2 separate regions of the Homo sapiens genome follow, and region 2 is linked to region 1. The links come from fine-mapping of genetic effects on plasma protein levels. A gene starts in region 1. The other region holds a variant in brackets. All regions are shown on one strand. Distances are between the middles of the regions.

Region 1 (10,263 bases):
GCTGAGGTGGGAGGATCACTTGAGCCCAGGAGTTTGAGGTTACCATGAGCTATGATTGTGCCACTGCACTCCAGCCTGAGTGACAGAGCAAGACCCTGTCTCAAAATAAATAAAAGAAAGAAAAGAGAGAATTCGAGAAAGCCCAGACTTTTGGAATTTTTTTTTTTTTTTGAGATGGAGTCTCGCTCTGTCGCCCAGGCTGCAGTGCAGTGGCGCGATCTTGGCTCACTGCAAGCTCCACCTCCTGGGTTCACGCCATTCTCCTGCCTCAGCCTCCTGAGTAGCTGGGACTACAGGCGCCCGCCACCACACCCGGCTAATTTTTTGTATTTTTAGTAGAGACGGGGTTTCACCGTGTTAGCCAGGATGGTCTCGATCTCCTGACCTCATGATGTGCCTGTCTCAGCCTCCCAAAGTGCTGGGATTACAGGCGTGAGCCACCACGCCCGGCCCAGACTTTTGGATATTAAAGCAGACACGTCTAAACAACTTATGTGTCAAATTTAAAAATTAGCCGGTGTGGTGGCGCGTGCCTGTAGTCCCAGCTACTCAGGAGGTGGAGGTGGGAGGATTGCTTGAGCCTGGGAGGTCGAGGCTGCTGTGGGCCAAGATTACATCACTGCACTCCCGCCTGGGTGGTAGCGTGAGACCTTGTCTCAAACAGACACACACACACACACACCAATAAAGGTATAAATAGCTTTTCCTCTTTCATGAAAAGAATAGTAAAATAGGAAACAAACATGACAGAAACTTGGTTGAGAAAAAGTACACAAAATTTCTGGCTAAATTAATCAAGAAAAAAGAGATAAGGCACAAATAAATGATATTAGGAATAAAAAAGAGCAAAATAGTCACACATGCTGCAGAAGTTAAGCTGATTCTAAGAGGATATTTTAAATGAGATTATGCCAATTCAGCTGGAGTGGGTAACTTCCTAGAAAAATACAAAATCAGCCACATGGGCAGGCTTACGCCTGTAATCCCAGCACTTTGGGAAGCTGACGCGGGAGGACTGCCCGAGCCCAGGAGTTTGGAACCAGCCTGGGCAACACAGGGAGACCCTCCACCTCTACAAAAAATAAAAAAATTGTCTGTGTGTGGTGATGTGCCCCTGTGGTCCCACCTACTCGGGAGGCTGAAGTGGGAGGATCACGTGAGCTCAGGAGACGGAGGTTGCCGTGACCTGTGATTGCACCACGGCACTCCAGCCTGGGCAACAGAGTGAGTCCCTGTCTCTAAAAATAATAATAACAAATCTCAAAAAACAAAAAAGAAAGAAAGAAAAGAAAAAAATACAAAATTGGCTCAGGAAGAATAGTTAATAGGGGTCTGGCCCTGTAACTATCAAAGAAATGGAAACAGTACTGTAGAAGCCAGCACAGTGGCATATGCCTGTAGTCCCAGCTATTCCAGAGGCTGAGGTGGGAGGATTTTTGAAGCTCAGGAGGTTGAGTCTAGCTTGGGCAACATAGTAAGTCTGGTCTCTAACCCATCTCTTAAAGACAAAACAAACAAAAAACTTCCCACAGAAAAATTGGGCCTAGGTGTTTTTTTTTTCAGGCAAGTTTTTTTTTTTTTTTTTTTGAGACAGAGTCTCGCTCTTTCGCCCAGGCTGGAGTGCACTGGCTCGATCTCGGCTCACTGCAAGCTCCTCCTCCTGGGTTCACGCCATTCTCCTGCCTCAGCCTCCCAAGTAGCTGGGACTACAGGCGCCCACCACCACGCCCGGCTAATTTTTTGTATTTTTACTAGAGACGGGGTTTCACCGTGTTAGCCAGGATGGTCTCAATCTCCTGACCTCGTGATCCGCCCGCCTCGGCCTCCCAAAGTGCTGGGATTACAGGCGTGAGCCACCGCACCCGGCCTTTTCAGGCAAGTTCTACCATAAATTGCAGGAACAGATAATCCAAATATTACGCTAATTTAAAAAAAATTAAAGCAATTTTTTTGTTTGTTTGTTTTTGGTAGAGACGAGGTCTCACAATGTTGCCTAGGCCGGTCTCCCAAAGTACTGGGATTACAGGTCAGACCATCATGATATCAAAACCATAGAGGAGGCCAGCCACGGTGGCTCACACCTGTAATCCCAGCACTCTGGGAGGCCGAGGAAGGTGGATCACCCGAGGCCAGGAGTTTAAGACCAGCCTGGCCAACATGGGGAAACCCCGTCTCCACTAAAAATACAAAAATGAGCTGGGTGTGGTGGCACATGCCTGTAGTCCCAGCTACTCACGAGGCTGATGCACAAGAATCCCTTGAGCACGGGAGGTAGAGGTTGCAGTGAGCTGAGATTGAGCCACCGTACTCTAGCCTGAGTGACACAGCAACACCTTGTCTCAAAAAAAAAAAAAAGGCAAAGGGAAGCCAGCCATGGTGTGGACCTGTGGTCCCAGCTACTGCAGAGGCTGAGGCAGGAGGACCATTCGAGGCCAAGAGTTTGAGGCCACAATGAGCTATGATTGCACCACTGCAGTCCAGCCTGGGCAATAGAGCAAGACCCTGTTGCTAAAACAAACAAACCAAAGGCCTGTTACCTACTTACAGGGAAGAGGCAGCAGGTGGCAGGGGAGGGGAGAGACTGTTACCAAAACACCAGGGGTTCAGTCCAGGTCCTGCTGTTCGCTGCACAGAAAGCCAATCACGGAGACCAGGAGCACCGCCAGGGGGAAGGCTTTAAGCCGGCCGCAGCCAAGGAGATGGGTGCTCAGTCTCAAATCCGTCTCCCTGACCCACTGAAATTAGGGGTTTATAGAGCAGGGAAGCCACGTAACTAGGTGTGAGAAAACAGGAATTAGGGGCAGCTGAAGAAGAGGAGTTGGTCAACAGGAAGCTGGTGGTTGGCCAGGCAATCTTGACAGCTGGGGGGTCTGGTGTCTCATTGTCAAGATACCGTGATCTGGTGAGTTTTAGCTCTTTCATTCTATCTGGGGGCCTCATGGTTGGTTTTCTGAGAAAGGAACTCAAATAGGACAAATGTCACTTTCTCAAATTTTAAGACTAGGAGGATCAATTTCTGTGTTTATTCAAAGAAACCATAAACATCAGTTCCACGGGACAATTGAGCCGGTTTCAAAATCAAAGAAGGCCAAAGCCAGGCAGGGTGTGGCACACACCTCTAGTCCCCAGCTACTCAGGAGGACTGCTTGAGGCCAGGAATTTACCAGCCTGGGCAACATAGTGAGGCCCCGGTCTCCAATAAAAGGAGATGGGGGGCTGGGTTTGGTGGCTCACGCCTATAATCTCAGCACTTTGAGAGGCCAAGGCAGGTGGATCACTTGAGGTCAGGAGTTCGAGATCAGCCTGGCCAACATGGCAAAACCCCGTCTCTACTAAACATACAAAAATTAGGCTGGGCACGGTGGCTCATGCCTGTAATCCTAGCACTTTGGGAGGCCGAGATGGGCGGATGCTCAGGAGTTTGAGACCAGCCTGGGAGCAACACAGTGAGACCCCGTCTCTATTAGAATGCAAAAAAATTAGCCTGGTGGCACACGGCTGTAGTCCCAGCTATTTGGGAGGCTGAGTCAGAAGAATTGCTTGAACCAGGAGGCGGAGATTGCAGTGAGCCGAGATCACATCACTGCACTCCAGCCTGGGCAACAGAGGAAGAGTCTGTCTCAAAGTAAATAAATAAAATAAGATAAAATGAAATAAAATGCTCACAGTGCCAGCTAGAGCCATCGTTCAGAAAAGAATTTGGCACTTGCTAGAGAAGCAGAACACACACTTGCCTGACAACCAGCAGTTCAGATCCGGGATGCTCCCCAGAGAAGTGCTCTCAAGAGCACACATGCGGCCGGCGCAGCGGCTCACACCTGTCACCCCAGCACTGTGGGAGGCCGACGCAGACGGAGAGGCCGGGCGCGGTGGCTCACACCTGTCATCCCAGCACTGTGGGAGGCCGAGGCAGGCGGGTCGCCTGAGGTCAGGAGTTTGAGACCAGCCTGGCCAATATGGTGAAACCCTGTCTCTACTAAAAATACAAAATTAGTGGGGAATGGTTATAGGCGCCTGTAATCCGAGTTGCTCAGGAGGCTGAGGCGGGAAATCGCTTGAACCCAGGAGGTGGAGGTTGCAGTGAGCTGAGATCGCGCCACTGCACTCCAGCCTGAGCGATAGGGCCAGACTCCACCTCAGATAAAAAATAAAATTAAAAAAAAGAGTGTATATGTGCAGAGCAGCAATCTCAGCAAAGCCTAAAGCCAGACACTGTGTGTTCACCAGCTGCAGCGACACGCCGTCTGCATGTTCTCACTCACAGGATGGAATACAGCAAGGAACAAACAAGCCACACCTCTCAGTGTCAACAGGGTGAATCCCAAACGCGTAACGTGAGTGAAAGAAGCAAGTCCCAGAACAGCACGTCCAGCACATCAGAGACCACCAATGGGGTCCTGCTGCCACCCTGGCATTGCTCTTACCAACTGTGCATATGTGCACCTCCCATTCTGTTGTGTCTCCGACCTCGAACAGGACAGCACAGGCTTCCCCGCCTCCCGTGGGCCTTTGCAAAGTCTGCTCTCCCCAGGCCAGTGGGTGCCCTCCCCACAGGGCTCCCTGTGCATGCATGGAGCCTGGCGTGCTTTGGGCACCCAGGAGTACTACTCAGCAAGCGTTTGTTGAATGACTTAATGAGCACCTGCAGAAAGGGAGCAGTGAGTGAAAGGCCTTTCACAATTAAACCATCAAGGTGTTTCGGCCACAGCACAAGTTTCTTTTTTTTTTTTCTTTTGAGATGGAATCTCGCTCTGTCGTCCAGGCTGGAGTGCAGTGGTGCAGTCTCAGCTCACTGCAACCTCTGCCTCCCAGGTTCAAGCGATTCTCTTGCCTCAGCCTCCCAAATAGCTGGAATTACAGGTGTCTGCCACTACAGCCGACTAATTTTTTTTTTTTTTTTGACTCGCTCTGTCACCCAGGCTGGAGTGCAGTGGCGCGATCTTGGCTCACTGCAAGCTCCGCCTCCCGGGTTCACACCATTCTCCTGCTTCAGCTTCCCGAGTAGCTGGGACTACAGGTGCCCGCCACCACGCCCGGCTAATTTTTTGTATTTTTAGTAGAGATGGCATTTCACTGCGTTAGCCAGGATGGTCTTGATCTCCTGACCTGATGATCCGCCCGCCTCAGCCTTCCAAAGTGCTGGGATTACAGGAGTGAGCCACCGCGCCCGGCCCACAACCGGCTAATTTTTGTATTTCTATTAGAGACGGCGTTTCACCATGTTGGCCAGGCTGGTCTTGAACTCCTGACCTTAAGTGATCCACCTGCCTCAGCTTCCCAAAGTGCTGGAATTACAGACGTGAGCCACACAGCACAAGCTTCTGATGTGGAGACTGAGGCAGGGCAGCCAAGATGTCAGCAGGCCTCAGGAAAGCCCCCCTCCCTGGGAGGTCTGAGCCCTGCGTGGGCGGGAGGCTCCGAGTTCCCTCCCCCAGGGGTTCTCCCCTAACCTCTCTGCATCCGCATGTTCCCAGCTCAGCCGGGGTCATGTGCAGCACATCTGGAGGCCCCATCCCCGAGAGGGTCCTGGAAGCCGAGAGCTGCCCCACCCAGAGGCCCCTCCACCCCTTCAGCTCCTGCCAGCTTCCCTCTGACGCTCTCCCAAGTCTGCCTTCCAGGGTCCCTGAGTCCATGCCAGGAAGGGGCGTTCCCCCGCCCTCACTCCGTCTCAAAGAGAGCTCAGCCTCAGCCTTTGTCCTGGCCGCTCTGGGCTCCCTGCCTCTCCCTCCGCAGGCGAAGCTGGGCACTCGGCCATGAGCCTGTCTCCCCGGGGCAGAGTCCAGCTCCCCTCTCCCTCCCCATCCTCTCAGGCCTGGCAGACCTCCCACTCCCTGGCTTGAGCTTTTTGTCCATGAAAAGAGTCCAGAACACCAGGAAGCCCCGCTGGGCCTGGAGGGAAGCGGGGTACCGCAGGCCAGTGGGGGTCGCAGCACCCTGCCTCTGGGCGGCCTTTGTTCCTTCCTTTTCAGGCATGATGTGCACTGTGCGTGCCTCTCCCTCCTCTGGGCGGTCAGGGGTGGAAGAAAGGCCTGGGGTGTGTGGGGGGAAACTGGGGCCTGGGGCCTGGAGCTTAGCACCGGCAACACCCAGAGATTGCCTGCTGGAGCCCCGCCAGGCTGGGCTGTGAGGCTGAGGCAGCAGAGAGGCTTCCCAGGGTTCCCACCCCTCCCTTTGGGGTCCTGAGCTGGAAGAAAGATGCCTTTACTGGGCCTGTGGCGCCAGACCCTCAGCCCAGGCAGCAATCCCAGCACAATTGTCACTGCCCGTTCCAGAAGGCCGGGCATGGTCTGGACCCTGCCCCATGGGGCTGCCCTTTGGGCCCCAGCAGCCTGCACTCCCTGGTGGCCTTGCCTCGTGGCTCCCTGACGCTGTGTGGCTGGAATTATTGGGACAAGAATTCCCACTTTGCAGCAGGCGCAAAGGGGGTGGCCCCTGGCCGGGCTGGGATGCGGGGCCTGTGAGGCTGCAGAGCCGAAAGGCCAGCCATGTCGTGGGACGGAGGAGCAGGGCTTGCGTCTGGGGCCAGCTGCGCTTCGCCTGCCCCAGCCGTCCCCAGAAGCCTGTTGCTGACCCGCACCCCAAGCTTGGCCTGGGGACCCTCTTCCTTGCCTTTCAGGCCACGTAGAGGCCCCACCTGTTTCCGTCCTGGGGAAGCCTCCTCTGGCCTCCGCAGCCCAAGCCTCTGTTCCCCTCAGGCCGAGGGGGCAGCAGGCGCGGCTGAGGCCCTGGGCTGGGAGGTATGGACCTTTGGCCCGGTCTGTGCTGCTTCTCCTGTTTCTCGGCTCGGTGTGACCTGGGCCGTCCCTCCCCTTCCCCGTTCCTGCGTCCTCACCTTCACCTCAGTACAGGGCCCAGGTGAGGTGGATCTGACTGGGCCTCAAGGGTAGTTCTGGCCTGGGTCAGCTGCGTGTCTCTGGAGCTGACCTGCGCTGGCTCAGCGCCGCAGGCTGGCGGATCCTTGCTGGCCGGGAGGGCATCCCGCAGGCCAGCCTGGTCCTCACCAGCCCTGGGAGTTGGCGCTCAGGGCCCTGCTCCACAAACAGGTGCTGACCCTCGGCTTCCTCCTGAGTCCCCAGCCCGGGCCCCGCGTGGCTCCGCAGCCGACAGTGCCTCATTCCTGCAAGCGAGTCTGGCCTCCTTTCCCGGGCCCGGGAAAAGCGCGGCTCTCCAGCACAGGACCCTCCGAGCCAGCCTCGCCCGCCCACCCCCACGCCAGGTCTCCTGCCTCCACGGCCGGGGGATCCCCTTGCTGAGTGGGCGGGAAGGGGAAGGTGGGCCATAGCCGCGGGGCGCCCGGGCTCAGACCCGGGAGCCGGGGGGCGGTGCTGGTGACTCAGCCGCGCCCGCGTCTCTCACCTGCGCGGGCCGGACGGCGGAAGCTTGGGAGCGGAGGCGAAACCTGTCCGCCCGTGGGCGTGGCCGGTGATGGGCGGGCCCGCCCGGCCTCCCGCCCCTCGTCCCGCCCCGGGGCCCCTACCCCGCGGTCCCGCGGCCCCGCCCGCCTCCGCCTCCGGCTCCCCGCACTCTCCGGGTCCACGCATCGTCCTCCCGCGCGCCCGCCCGCCCATGGCCGGGAAGGTGCGGTCACTGCTGCCGCCGCTGCTGCTGGCCGCCGCGGGCCTCGCCGGCCTCCTACTGCTGTGCGTCCCCACCCGCGACGTCCGGGAGCCGCCCGCCCTCAAGGTGCGCGCCCGGGCACCCAGCGCACGTCTGGGGAGCAGCGGGCCGGGCTTGGAGCCGGGGAGGGGGTGCGGCTGGGAACCTGAGCAGGATCAGCCCGGGACCCCCACCGTGCTCTGCTCCTGGCGGGCTGGGTGGGGTCCCGGGTTCCGCGCTCTGCGCTCCCCGACCGGGTACGCGGAGGGGGCGGGGGGCGGTGGCGCTTCCAGGGCGACGCGGTGCTGAAGGAACAAGTCCCGGGAGTTCCGCGCCCGCCGCCGAGTCCGTCAACGCAGCCCAGGGGCTGTGTCCCCGCTCCCGGGATAGCCCAGCGATGCCCCCTGGGTGCTGCCGGACGCCCGCCCCCAGGCCTGTGCGGGCCCCCAGGGGCACTCCGGGCCACTTCTGCCCTGTGCCGCCGCCCCGGAGGGTGCGGTTAGAGCCACATCGACTGGGTATTCAGCCCAGATGGGGATCCACAAGCCCCAGGACCCAGGGCCCCCGCCAGGACACGAGAGTGGCCCAGAAAGACAGGAGGGCTTGACCGGAGCAGCCCTGGCCGGTCCTCAAAAGGTTGGAGCAGGCTAGCCTGGATCTCCACTCCAGCAGGCCCAGGGACCTCCTGGTCGGCCCCTTTAACCCTTTATTGGGCTTGTAGGGGGGTGGGGTGGAGAGCCAAGTCCCCCAGCCTGATGGGGAGTCAGAAGCAGGGAGCTCTGCGGCCCTGCAGGACGGCCATGTGGCGGTGCACGCGCTGACCTGTTGATGCTCTGGGCTCTGGGGAAGCCTTGGTCGGGATGGACTGGTGCGGCCCTCTCGGAGGCTGGAATTGGCGCCCGGGCCTGGGAGGCTGGTCCCCAGCTTTCCAGGTGGATCCAGGATGCTGGGGCAGGAGCTGGAAAAGGGCATTTACAAGCTCGTGCCACTCAGGTCTGCAGGAAGGCCCACCCAGCACCCCCAACAAGGCAGGGCCAGCCTCTCTCTCTGGCCCTGGCTTGGAGGCCTAGGGAGAGTGTCTTTAGAGCTGACCTGGCTCTGAGGCCCACGGCCAGCCTCGGTGGACCTTCTTCACCTGGGGCCCTGCCTCCTGCATCCTCAGGTTGGGCTGCCGTCAGAGGAGCTGGAAGGAGACAGAGGAGGAAGGAAGAGGGGAGGAAGGAAGAGGGACTCTAGGGAGCTCCTCTTGCAGAGGAGCTTCCTCTCCCTGAGCCTGGGAAACTTGTGCCCCAGGGAAAAGTCCCTGGGGACCCTCTGTCCCTCTGTCCCTGACTCAGTCCCTCAGTCTGCCCTTGCCAGGAAGGCTGCTGCCCAGACCCTGGCATGCTGGCTTCAGGTAGTCAGGAGGGAAGAGTCACCTCCCCACCACCTCCCTGTTCTCCTTCCAACCACGGCCTCAGAGGAGGCCCTGGCCTCCTCTGAGCTTCAGCATGAGGCTTGGCACATGACTGGGTGGGGGGGGGAGCGGTGGCAAACTGGAGGAACCCAACTTCACGTTTGGTGTCAGGGTGTCAGGGCCCCCGGACACCCCAGGCTGACTCCCTCCCCCTCCCCCGCAGTATGGCATCGTCCTGGACGCTGGTTCTTCACACACGTCCATGTTTATCTACAAGTGGCCGGCAGACAAGGAGAACGACACAGGCATTGTGGGCCAGCACAGCTCCTGTGATGTTCCAGGTGAGGCCCAGCCCAGCCCAGCCAGGACGCCCACTCACTGCAGGGTCTCTGGGACCCTCTCCAGCCTTAGCCAGTGCAGGTCCTTCTGCTTAGTGTTGGGTGGGGCTCACTCCAGGCAGAAGCCCTGGAAAGAGAGAGGCTGGTGCCCCTGCGCCTGAGTGGGGCCAGGAGTCGTTTGCATTCTAGAAAGGAAGCCTAGGCAGCAGGTGGGGAGGTTTGAGCCTCGCCGGGCCCAGTATTGGCTTCTGTGCCCCAGATGGAGCAGGAGGAGGTCTGGGGGCCTGGCGGACACACCCAGGCAGGCCTCAGGAGGCCAACCTGGGTTGACCATGCCCAGGGCTTTGTCCTAGCACCTGCACCCACACCCTCTCAGCAGGCAGCAGCCTTGGTCTCCGGGTGGCACCTGGGCCCCTTTGTCTCCAACCTGGGCGTTTCTGGGGGCTTAAGCAGGGAAGGTGTGCCACCTGGTCTGGGAGCCCACGGCCCCCACCCCCACCCTCACTCTCCTGGCCTACGGCCCACCTAGGGGCTGCCCGTGAGGCATAGGCTCATCTCTCTGCCTCCCTCTAGGTGGGGGCATCTCCAGCTATGCAGACAACCCTTCTGGGGCCAGCCAGAGTCTTGTTGGATGCCTCGAACAGGCGCTTCAGGATGTGCCCAAAGAGAGACACGCGGGCACACCCCTCTACCTGGGAGCCACAGCGGGTATGCGCCTGCTCAAGTGAGTGTGCCTGTGCCCTGGCCCTGTCCCCATGATGGCCTTTGGCTGTGACCCCTTGCAGGGCGGACTCCGAGCACCCCTACAGCAGGCTCACAGCCACCTGGGGAGAAGGCCTCTTGGAGTTCTCTGTGTTTTGCAGCCTGACCAATCCAGAGGCCTCGACCAGTGTGCTCATGGCAGTGACTCACACACTGACCCAGTACCCCTTT
Region 2 (11,672 bases), 17 kb after region 1:
CCAGGATGCAAAGCTGACGTTTTTCTGGGGGGACTGAACTGGGAGACTTTGCGACTGCATTCGTACAGTACTCCTGGCAGCCCTGCAGAAGAGGTGCTGTGAGCCCGTTTTACAGGCAAGGAATCCGAGGCATGGAGAAGTTAAGTGGATTGTGGCACAGCTGAGGCGCTGTCCTGGGCAGCCTGGTTCTGTGTGTGTGGCCTCAAGGGGCCAGAGTGAGGCCGGCTTCCTCCTGGGCTCAGTGCCCCTGGATGGGAGGTGGGCATGAACAGGAGAGGCTTCCGAGAATCAGAGTGTGCTCAGCCAGGAAAGGCGGAGGCCACCTATTCAGGAAACGGGGCTGCAGCTGCTGTGCTGAGCCCGGGTGGGTGGCAGGTGCCAGTCCTCAGTTCACCGGCCTCTGCAGCTTCGTGTCTGCCTCACCGGGAGACCTGGCAGGGCCCTCCCTAGGCAACTCCTCCCATTCCCAGTGCCCAGTGCTTGGAAGGGAGGGCCCTCAGGCAGCCCAGACGTTGGCGGGTGGAGGGGGGTGTGCCAGCCACCGTCCAGCTGCTCTTGTTCCTGCGACCTCTTTTCAGGAGGAGGAAGTGGGGGATGGAGGCTCCTGGGCTGGGGAAAAGGGCTAGGAGGGGCCTGGAACCCAGACCCTAGAGCCAGCTTTGTACCTCAGGCCCCTGCCTTTGGCGTGGTGGACGGTGGGGTATCAGCACAGGAGCGGGGACTGCCTCACTCCCCAGGTGCCAAGTTGGCGGGTGGGCCCAGGTGGACCTGCTGGCACAGGTTTAATGTTTAACGTGCCCAAGTCCCGGCCCACTGATACTGGAGGCTGCTGCCCCAGGTTGTGGAGGGTGTGCGGTGCCTGGCGTTGGCTCCTGTGCCCACCTGCCACTGCGGCTGCTGGAACTGCCTTGAAGGAAGGCGGACAGCCTGAGGGCCCTGAGTGTCAGGTTACCAAGGAAACCAAACCAGCCAACCAAGGTCTGGAGAAGGATGATGCCCCGTGTGGCCCCCGTGGCCCTGCCTGCAGTGTGCAGTGTGGGGCTGGGCAGAGAGGAAGAGTCCTGGTTAGCCAGAGGTGCCACCGCAGACTCCCCAGGCAGGGTTGATGGCCCTGCTGGGGTTCCCCTGGCTCCACTGGCTTGCTGTGACTGGGGACATTCCTTAGCTTTGAGGCAACTCAGCTATATCCCAGAGGGGAAACTGAGGCAGAGGGCCATTGCCCCCTCGCCCCGTTCTCCAGCACCAGGATAAGACTGATTAGCCACATGTGTCAGCTGGCACCGTGGCCTGGGCCCCTCATCAGCGAGATGAAAGTGTGGTTAGGAACTAGGGAACTAGGGCCTGGCCTGCCATCCCCAGCACTGCCAACCTCGGCCTCCTGAGGCCCTCGGGTGCCACCTGGCCCCTGACTGCAGCCCCTGGTGTGGTGGCTTTGGGAGTGACCTGCCTGGGTTCTGTGTCTGAGGCCAGTGAGGTCAGCAGACTCCATCTTAGGTGTCCTCGGTGCCTGGGGGACAAGCCAGAGGCTGGAGGAGCAGCATCCCTTCCAGGCTGCACACTTGTCAGTGCCGGGTTCTGGGGAGAGCCGCACGGGAAGGAGAGGTCGCTGGCGGCATCGTTTGCTGCTCCCCAGAGACAGACCTGGGCCCTTCCCTCTGGGACTCCCAATCTGGACGGGGTTCCTGGCTTGCTGTGGGGCATGTTGAGGCCGGAGGCTGGGCTTGTGGGGCTGCACGGCCCTGCCCAGGAGAACTCAGCACTGCCTGGACGGCGAGACTCAGCTTCTGAGCTGAGGGCTCTATCAGGCCTGGAAGTGGACCCTGGGGAGGGGTGGGGCAGGGTAGTTCTGATAAGTCCTAGGACTGTTCGCTTCCGGGTTCTGAGCCCTGGCGTCAGGGAGGAAGGGCATGTCCAGAACAATGGCCAGAACCAGGCCCGGCCAGCTCGGGGGGTGACGGGGGCGGGTGGCTGGGGCAGCGCTGCCGTGTGCAGGGGCCGAGCCCTGCGGGGCCGTGAGCCGGCCCTGCCTTCTGCTTCCTTCCCAGATGTAGCCGCCTGTCCCGGGAGCCTGGACTGTGCCCTGAAGAGGCGGGCAAGGTGTCCTCCTGGTGCACATGCCTGTGGGCCCTGCCTTCAGCCCTTCCAGGAGGACCAGCAAGGGCTCTGTGTGCCCAGGATGCGCCGGCCTCCAGGTACGAGAGCAAAGGGGGAAGTCGATGGGGGGATGTCCCTGCATGAACCTCTCCCTGTAAGAAGCGGCCGGCTGGGCGCGGTGGCTCATGCCTGTAATCCCAGCACTGTGGGAGGCCCAGGCTGTTGGATCTCATGAGGTCAGGAGTTCAAGACCAGCCTGGCCAACATGGTGAAACCCCGTCTCTACTAAAAATACAAAGTAGCCGGGTGTGGTGGCACACACCTGTAGTCCCAGCTACTCAGGAGGCTGAGGCAGGAGAATTGCTTTAACCCGGGAGGCGGAGCTTGCAGTGAGCCGATTCACCACTGCACTCCAGCCTGGGCGACAGTGCGAGACTCTGTCTCAAAAAAAAAAAAAAAAAAAAAGAAGGCCGGGAGCAGTGGCTCACGCCTGTAATCCCAGCACTTTGGGAGGCCGAGGCGGGCACATCATAAGGTCAGGAGATCGAGACCATCCTGGCTAACACGGTGAAACCCCATCTGTACTAAAAATACAAAAACAAAATTAGCCGGGCGTGGCGGCGGGCGCCTGTAGTCCCAGCTACTCGGGAAGCTAAGGCAGGAGAATGGCGTGAACCCGGGAGGCAGAGCTTGCAGTGAGCCGAGATCGCGCCACTGCACTCCAGCCTGGGCGGCAGAGCGAGACTCCGCCTCAAAAAAAAAAAAGCAGCAGCCTGCAGCCTCAATGCCCAGGCCTGTGCCAGGTGGTCTTGGGGCCCCTGGACCTTGTGGGGTGTTGGGTCCAAGGCCTGGGAGATCCTCATTCACTCTCCACGAAGCCTCCCATCCTTTCCAAATGGAGGTGGGCCCAGGCCTGGGGCAGTCAGGCCCTCCCAGGAGAAGGGCTGCACGATGTGAAATGCTGGGATGGCCACGGGAGAGGAAGGGCCCATTCTCCCCGGGCCTGGGCTCTGCAGGGTCTGCCCAGAAGCCCTCCAGGCCCCCACTTCCCCGTCCCCAGGCAGCTTGCTCTTTTCCACCACTCACTGTCCTGTCCGCCTGTTGGCAAATGTTGAAGGGTGCCAGCACTGGCTGGGTGCTGGGGATGCCCCGCTCGCCAGCCTGAGCCGCATCTGTCGGGATGGCCAGTCACTGAGTGACTTCAGGTGTGGTGAGGGCTTTGCTCAGAGGTGCTGGGGGTGGGAGCAGCAGCGGCTTCCTGGAGGAGGTGTTGAGAGGAGCACCGAGAAGTGGCTGTAAGGGTCTGTGTGGATGCACCTCCTGCCAACCTGGGAGCGTCCACCCAGACTGTGCAGCCCACAGTGGGTACCGGTGGAGCCCTGCCACCAGCCCCACCCCTGACAGCTGCCCCCGTTCTCCCAATGACCTGGGGAGGGGTCCCGGGTGCTTGGCTTCCTTCGGCTTCCCCCCACTCCTTGGGGAGTCCCTGCCCCTCTACCCGAGAAGGTGCTTGGAGGTGGGGAAGCAGAAGGGGCTGTGCTGGCCAGCCCTTTATGGACATGGGTTGGGGCGAGAGACCCCACTCCTTCCTCCCCGTGCCCGGTCTTTGGACGTTTCCCTAGCGCCTCCTCCCTTGCCCTGCCTCCACTTTCCGGGAAGCACTGCCCCTCACAGGAAGCGCCCGCGCTGTCACCATGGCAATCTGGGAGGGAGAGGGCCTCCAGGCGTGTACCCAGTCCTCAGGCTCCTGGGAGGAACCTGCCAGAAGCGGGGAGGCCGGGCCTGGGGCTACCTCCTGGACGGACCCCTCCACCTGATGGCCCCTCACCCTCCCCAGGCGGGGGCCGGCCCCAGCCCAGACTGGAAGATGAGATTGACTTCCTGGCCCAGGAGCTTGCCCGGAAGGAGTCTGGACACTCAACTCCGCCCCTACCCAAGGACCGACAGCGGCTCCCGGAGCCTGGTGAGACCCCCGCTTCCCCTGCCCCACGGCCCTGTCCCTAGCCCAGTGCTCTCATTCTAACCTGTCCTCTCTCGCAGCCACCCTGGGCTTCTCGGCACGGGGGCAGGGGCTGGAGCTGGGCCTCCCCTCCACTCCAGGAACCCCCACGCCCACGCCCCACACCTCCCTGGGCTCCCCTGTGTCATCCGACCCGGTGCACATGTCGCCCCTGGAGCCCCGGGGAGGGCAAGGCGACGGCCTCGCCCTTGGTAGGTCTTGGTCGGGGGTGGGCAGGGGCAGCAGGGCGCCCTGCAGAAGGCCGCCCTCACACGCCCCCTCCTGCAGTGCTGATCCTGGC[G/A]TTCTGTGTGGCCGGTGCAGCCGCCCTCTCCGTAGCCTCCCTCTGCTGGTGCAGGTGAGCCAGTGGCCGCGGGCAGGGCAGGGAGGGTGCCACACGCTCAGAGGTCTCAGGCCCCACTCCCCACAGGCTGCAGCGTGAGATCCGCCTGACTCAGAAGGCCGACTACGCCACTGCGAAGGCCCCTGGCTCACCTGCAGCTCCCCGGATCTCGGTGTGTGGCCCCCTTCAGCCCTGAGGCTCCCGCCCAACTCTGGCCGCCAACTGACCCTCGCCTCCTCCTTCCCACAGCCTGGGGACCAGCGGCTGGCACAGAGCGCGGAGATGTACCACTACCAGCACCAACGGCAACAGATGCTGTGCCTGGAGCGGTGAGTGGCCGCCCCGGCACTGCCACCCCCACCCACCCACCCCCCATCCCCACCTCCACCTCCATTTCCACCTCCCCTGGCCAACTTTACCCCAGGCCCTGCCACCCTCACCTGCACGCTAACCTTCACCTCCCCCGCCGCCCTGCACCCTCACCTCCCCTGGCCAACTTCACCCTGGGCTGTGCTCCCCTGCCACCCCAGGGCTGAGGTGGGCTGAGTGCCCACTTCCAGACTGGGCCACTGGCACCTCGAGGGCATGGGGAGGACCCAGCGATCCCCCCCCACCCAGGCATAAAGAGCCACCCAAGGAGCTGGACACGGCCTCCTCGGATGAGGAGAATGAGGACGGAGACTTCACGGTGTACGAGTGCCCGGGCCTGGCCCCGGTGAGTGCCTCAGGGTGCAGGGAGGGGCGAACCATCTCCTGGGGTTCCCTCCCAGCAAGTATCCCCCCAGCCCACCCACTGCCCAGCCTGACACCCACATTCGCAGACCGGGGAAATGGAGGTGCGCAACCCTCTGTTCGACCACGCCGCACTGTCCGCGCCCCTGCCGGCCCCCAGCTCACCGCCTGCACTGCCATGACCTGGAGGCAGACAGACGCCCACCTGCTCCCCGACCTCGAGGCCCCCGGGGAGGGGCAGGGCCTGGAGCTTCCCACTAAAAACATGTTTTGATGCTGTGTGCTTTTGGCTGGGCCTCGGGCTCCAGGCCCTGGGACCCCTTGCCAGGGAGACCCCCGAACCTTTGTGCCAGGACACCTCCTGGTCCCCTGCACCTCTCCTGTTCGGTTTAGACCCCCAAACTGGAGGGGGCATGGAGAACCGTAGAGCGCAGGAACGGGTGGGTAATTCTAGAGACAAAAGCCAATTAAAGTCCATTTCAGACCTGCGGCTTCTGCCTGTGTTGCCAGCTTGGGTTAATCTTCCACCGCCTCATCTCCCATTTGGGGCCCTGGTAGACGGACCCCTGAGTGGGGGGCCTGGGGTCTGCTCTTGCACCCCCAGAGGGAGGAGGCCTTTCTGTTCGCTCATTAGGAGGACCTTCCCATCCCGTGGAGCTGGAGGAGAGGCCACGGGATCATCCCCACCCTCCTCAGCCAGGCCTCACCCCTGCAGACCCTTCTACGCAGGTGGGAGAGGGGAAGGGTGTAGTGTAGGGCTGGGCCAGCCCAGGGTTGGCTCTGCGGCCCGGAAGACCCCATCCTGTGTGATAAAGAGGGCTGGAGCAGGTGATAGTCCACACGCACCTGGATGTGGGTGCCCACCACCTCCAGGCAGAAGGAAAACAATGCAGACATTGAGTCTGGGTTTCTCATGGGGACCACGGCCGCCAGGCCCTGCAGCACACGGAGGAGGGATGGCAGGCAGAGGTACCTGTGTGATACCAGCTATGCAGAGCCAGGTGGACCCAGGGGGCCAGGTGAGGGGTGTGATGGGAGGGGCCTGGACGCCTGGAGCTGGGACTTGGCCACTCCTAAATTTGGAGCAAGAAGGCCCCGAGGGAGGAAGGGGAATCATGTGGTCAAAAGTGCCCAGATCAGGCCAGTACCAGGTCAGCGTGCGGGGGCTGAAACTCTCTGTCCCACTGATGCTGGGGACGTAGGAGGACTGGGTTCAGAAGCCCCTCAGTGGTTGTTAGGAGTCTGGAGGTCCAGGCACCTAGACAGCCCTGGCGTGTTCGTGTTATTAATCAGGGATCTCTTTTTATTTATTTATTTATTTATTTATTTATTTATTTATTTATTTTTGAGACGTAGTTTCACTCTTGTTGCCCAGGTTGGAGTGCAATGGCGTGATCTCGGCTCACTGCAACCTCCGCCTCTCAGGTTCAAGCGATTCTCCTGCCTCAGCCTCCCGAGTAGCTGGGATTGCAGGTGTGCGCCACCACACCTGACTAATTTTGTATTTTTAGTAGAGACGAGGTTTCTCCATGTTGGCCAGGCTGGTCTGGAATTCCCGACCTCAGATGATCTGCCCACCTCGGTCTCCCAAAGTGCTGGGATTACAGGCGTGAGTCACCACACACGGCCAGTCAGGTTCTCTTAGAGAAACAGAACTAATAGGAGATATATATATATAGAGAGAGAGAGAGAGGGGGGCCAGGTGCAGTGGCTCATGCCTGTAATCCCAGCACTTTGGGAAGCTGAGGCGGGCGGATTGCCCGAGCTCAGGAGTTCGAGACCAGCCTGGGCAACACAGTAAAACCCCCGTCTCTACTAAAATACAAGAAATTAGCCAAGCATGGCAGCGTGTGCCTGTAGTCCCAGCTATCTGGAGGCTGAGGCAGGAGAATCGCTTGAACCCAGGAGGCGGAGGTTGCAGTGAGCCAAGATTGCACCACCGCACTCCAGCCTAGAGACAGCAAGACTGTGTTAAAAAAAAAAAAAGAAATACATATATATATGAAGGGGAGTTTATTAAGTATTAACTCACACGATCACAAGGTCCCACAATAGGCCGTCTGCAAGCTGAGGAGCATGGAGAGCCAGCCCGAGTCTCAAAGCTGAACTTGGAGTCCGATGTTCGAGGGCAGGAAGCGTCCAGCACAGGAGAAAGATGTAGGCTGGGAGGCGAGGCCTGTCGTCTCCTTTTCACGTTTTTCTGGTTGACATTCGCTGGCAGCTGATTAGATGGTGCCCACCAGATGAAGGGTGGGTCTGCCTTCCGCAGCCCACTGACTCTAGTGTTAATCTCTTTTGGCAACACCCTCTCAGACACACCCAGCATCAATACTTTGTATCCTTCAATCCAATTAAATTGACAGTATTAACCATCACACCTGGCATGGGGAAGATAAGGCCCACTGGGCACCGTCCCTGGAGAAAGGGTGGGCCAGGCAGGCTGGGGGAAAATTGTTCACCCCTGCTGGGGGAGACTGGCTTGACCTAAGCAACATGTTTTGGGGGCCACAGCCCACCCAGACCAGGAAGCCCCCTTGCCTCTCACCTCTCACTCCTCACCTGTGACCTTGGGCTGGCCCTCAGCTGGGAGCCCCATGTCCCTCTGGGCACTGCTGTGATGGGGCAGGGTGTGATGGGAGCCTGTGTGTGGGCCCTGGTGTGATGGGTGCCTGCGTGCATGGGGCAGGGTGGACGCTGAGCCCACGTGGCACGCCCACGCCCACCATCCTTCACTCTAAGCCATTAGCCACAGGGAAAGCGGGTGGGTGCAGGGAGGCCCGAGCGTCACTCAAGGGCGCAGGGCAGCGTCTGGCCCAAGGCCAGCGTGTCACTGGCTGGGAGGTTCCCCTGGAGCTCCACGTTCAGTCCCTCAGGTCACAATACACACCTATCCTGCTGGCCTGACGCAGGGGCCCAAGAGCCTCCTAGTGTGTCCCATCTTCTTCTTGTTCTGGGTGTCCCCAACCTGTCCTCAGGGTCCCTGCTGCCCATTCTCTTAGGTATTGGCAAGGAAGGACTCCCTCCCAGAGCAGCTGTGTGAGAAGGGAGCTGGTGGGCCTGAGCTGGGGAAGGGTTGGCAGGGGGCTAGGTCCTCCGGTGGGGGCATAGGCCCCCATGCAGCCTAGCACCCTGCTCCCCACTCGCCTTTTTGGAATTGTTTTTTTTTTTTTTGAGACAGATTCTCACTCTGTCAGCCAGGCTGGAGTGCAGTGATATGATCTTGGCTCTCTGCAACCTCCATCTCCCAGGTTCAAGTGATTCTCCTGCCTCAGCCTCCCGAGTATTTGGGATTACATACAGGTGCCTGCCACCACGCCCAGCTATTTTTAGTGGAGATGGGGTTTCACCATGTTGACCAGGCTGGTCTCGAACTCCTGACCTCAGGTGATCCACCCGCCTTGGCCTCCCAAAGTGGGATTACAGGCATAAGCCACCACACCAGCTTTTTGGCTTTCATTGGCCCCTGGCCAATTCAGACAGAAGGCCTTCAACTTTGTCCAAGCTCCTGCCCCCACCCATCAGGAGCCCCCTTGCTCCCATAGGCCCCAGGCTGTGGGTGAGCTGCCCTGGGGCCCCCAGGGACTCTGGAGACCCCAATCCTGGGCTTGGGGCCTGGCTCAGCCTTGCCTGGGGGCCCATTACTCAATTCCTTTCCACTTTACCTTCTGCTGTTCCTGTCCCTGTCCCAAGGGCCCTGGCGGCAGTAAGAGGCAGATTTCACCTTGGTTTCTGGCTCAACTCTGAGCCCTGAGCCGGCCTGAGCCTGCTGACCCTGGCCCGGCAGCCTAGCGCCCCCTCCACCAGTTCCCACTTGAGGAAGCCCAGCGGGGCACTGATGTGCATCTTCCAGCCTCGGCTACCTCCCTGCTTGGTGCCCTGCCCACACCTGGTGACCTCCTGAGCACAGATGCCCAAGAGTGACATGCCCAGACCCTGGCGGAGACGCTGGGGTGGCACTCATCTGTGCAGAGATGCCCCCAACCCAGCAAGATGCTGGGGCAGGACCATGCTTGACCCAGAATGTGGGGCGTGTGATCCCCTAGCCAACATCCTAGGAAGCAAGGACATCCCCAGCTTCTGGCCCTGGGAGGCGATCTTGTTCCCCACCCTGGGTGGCTGGGTGGGCCGGCCCCGGGTTCAGAGTCCCTGGCTGCAGCCCTCCCCTACAGCCACACAACACAGAGGAGCGGGTCCCGGCAAAACTTGGGGTGCAGAGTGGGTCCCTGGAGGACCAGAGCCCCACCCAGCAGCTCCACCTGGAGGAGAACAAGGACAGACGTGATCCCCCCACGCCTTGGGGCTCAATGGGATGAGAGTTGGAGGGGAGGGGCTGAGCTCACCCACTGCACCACCCTGTGCTGCCCCTCGACCAATCCCTCCACTTGGGGGTCCCCTTGGCCACCTGCCAGGCTCCGTGCACCCACCCAGCTTTCCCAAGGCGAGGTCCGAGGGGCTCTCCAGCCCCCAGCTCCACCTGTTACTGAGAATAAGGGCAGTCTTCCTTGTTGCCGGAGCCATGTAGCTTTGCAGCATGCCGCCAGGGAGCGCTCGAGACACGCATCTGGACTGCCTTGCTCAAGCCAACCCATGAAGCAGGTGGGGCTCAGGAAGACAGCCAGGCTCAGCCCGCTCCCTGAGACGCCCCTGGGGCTGGGGCTGGGTGCCCCTCACCTTGCTGCTGCCCCGGGTGCCGCTGTCTGCAGGGGGCAGCTGGCCAATGGTCTGCTCTTGGTCTGGAGTGGGGCCCACTGGGTTGAGGCCTCTTCAGTGGGCATCCACCGGGAAGCTGGCCCACAGTGAAGGCTCAGCGGGGAAGAGCTTGTGTCCTGATCATCACGATGCTCACACACCACGGAGCTGGGGTTGGCTGCCTGCCTGGGTCCGCACAAACCCAGGGAGTCAGGAGGCCTGGGTGGGGTGAGATGAGGGGGAGCCCCTGCCCCCCGACTTTCTCTTTGACTCATGCCCTTTTCTTTCCTCTGAGAGGCTTTCGTTCTGACCCATTTCTGGGCAAAACCCCCGAGCCCCGTTTGCCAGCTCGCAGGTTCCCACGCACGATTGGGCCCCATGGCAGCCACCCTGCCCAGGGTCCTCAAGGAGCAAGCTAGGGGCGGAGGGTGGGGGAGGCTCCTTCAAATCCACCCAGGGAGGGAGCAGGCTGTGGCTGCGGCTGAGGTCGGTGGCAAGGGACCCTGCCAGCCTGGCAGCACAAACAGGAAGGATGGCAGGCTCTGGCACCAGAGGCCGGGTCACCCGCAGGCGTGGCAGGACAGCCTCCTTCCTGCAGGAACTGCCGCCGGGTGTCTGTTTCAAGGAGAAGAGATGGGGTGGTGTGAGGCTGAAGCCAAGGTGTGGCTCCCCGGGGGCCCCCTGCCAGAGGAGGAACGCTGGGGTGGGATTAAAGGCCCAGGTGCCACTGTGGTCATCACCGAAAACATGGGAGGCTGGAAAGGCGGGGCTGGAGGCAGCTGCCCACTCTGGTGCCAGCCCCTAAGCCAAGCAGCTCAGGCACTGACAGTTTCCCGTGGCGCCCACAGGCACCCCTCCCTCCAAACCCCCCTCCCTCCAAGCTCCCCTCCAAGCTCCCCTCCCTCCAGCCCCCTCCCTCCAAACCCCCCTCTCTCCAGCCCCCCTCCCAAGCCCCCTCCCTCCAAGTCCCCCTCCCTCCAGCCCCCCTCCCTCCAGCCGTTGCACAAGTTCCGCAGCAAAGCTCAGCTCAGAGGCTACACTGCGCCACAGGGGTGGGGGCCTCTGACTACCACCCTGTCCCAGTCTTGCCTCTGTCCCCACAGTGGGATCCTCCCACTTCAGTCTCCAGCTGCCTGGTTCCCCTCCCAAGGCAGCCTTGTCCTCACTGTGGGGCCGGGGAGAGGCCAGCAGCCCCTGGGGCCCAAAAGTAGAACAGGACAGGGACAGGGGTGGTGGGAGGCAGGCCCCCTCTGAGGGTGCTGGGGCAAAGGTCTGGACAACAGTTCATGGTTGCCATTCCTCCCAGGACACACGATCTGAGCCCCCAAAAGACCTGACAGGACAGACGCGTCCTCATTCCCAGCATCCCAGCATTTTGGGAGGCCGAGGTGGGAGGACTGCTTGAGCCAGGAGTTTGAAACTAGCCTGGACAACATAACAAGACTCTGCCTCTACAAAAAATTTTAAAAAATTAACCAGGCATGGTAGTGCACACCCATAGACCCAGCTCCTTGGGAGGCTGAGGTGGGAGCATTGCTTGAGCCCAGGAGGTTGAGGCTGCAGCAAACCGTGACTGCGCCACTGCACTCCAGCCTGGGCAACAGAGCAAGACCCTGTCTCAAAAAACAAAAAACAAAAACCCACACACAAAAAAGCAAACTTGGCTGGGCGCGGTGGCTCATGCCTGTAATCCCAACACTTTGGGAGGCTGAAACTTGTGGATCACCTGAAGTCAGGAGTTTGAGACCAGCCTGGCCAACATGGGAAAACCCCATCTCTACTAAAAATACAAAAATTAGCTGGGCGTGGTGGCAGGCA

Evidence for each region. PIP is the chance, under the fine-mapping model, that this variant and not a neighbour inherited with it causes the effect. The UK Biobank Pharma Proteomics Project read protein levels with antibody pairs (Olink). The fine-mapping took linkage between variants from a reference panel, not from the people measured, so its PIPs are less certain.
Region 2: its variant is fine-mapped to the plasma level of the ENTPD2 protein (UK Biobank, PIP above 0.99).

What each region holds. Positions count from the first base shown.
Region 1 is chr9:137,051,301-137,061,563 of GRCh38, reverse strand. ENTPD2 (ectonucleoside triphosphate diphosphohydrolase 2) reads left to right here and starts at 7,503. Exons shown (of 9, transcript NM_203468.3): 1 at 7,503-7,683; 2 at 9,216-9,333; 3 at 9,904-10,054; 4 at 10,194-10,263. The coding sequence starts at 7,567. It overlaps LOC105376327 (a long non-coding RNA gene), which reads right to left and starts at 9,219. Exons shown (of 2, transcript XR_930455.2): 1 at 8,689-9,219; 2 at 8,189-8,554. RefSeq lists silencers at 7,268-7,347, 7,448-7,517.
Region 2 is chr9:137,033,447-137,045,118 of GRCh38, reverse strand. It overlaps NPDC1 (neural proliferation, differentiation and control 1), which reads left to right. Exons shown (of 9, transcript NM_015392.4): 2 at 2,046-2,192; 3 at 3,932-4,057; 4 at 4,135-4,305; 5 at 4,382-4,448; 6 at 4,521-4,605; 7 at 4,683-4,762; 8 at 5,052-5,148; 9 at 5,255-5,656. The coding sequence ends at 5,347. It overlaps LINC02908 (long intergenic non-protein coding RNA 2908), which reads right to left. Exons shown (of 3, transcript NR_171031.1): 3 at 7,164-10,469. Among named protein-coding and RNA genes, the nearest start is that of NPDC1, 6.9 kb to the left of the region's middle. RefSeq lists enhancers at 8,654-9,540, 9,541-10,429, 10,282-10,481. The variant G/A (reference allele first, on the strand shown) is at 4,395.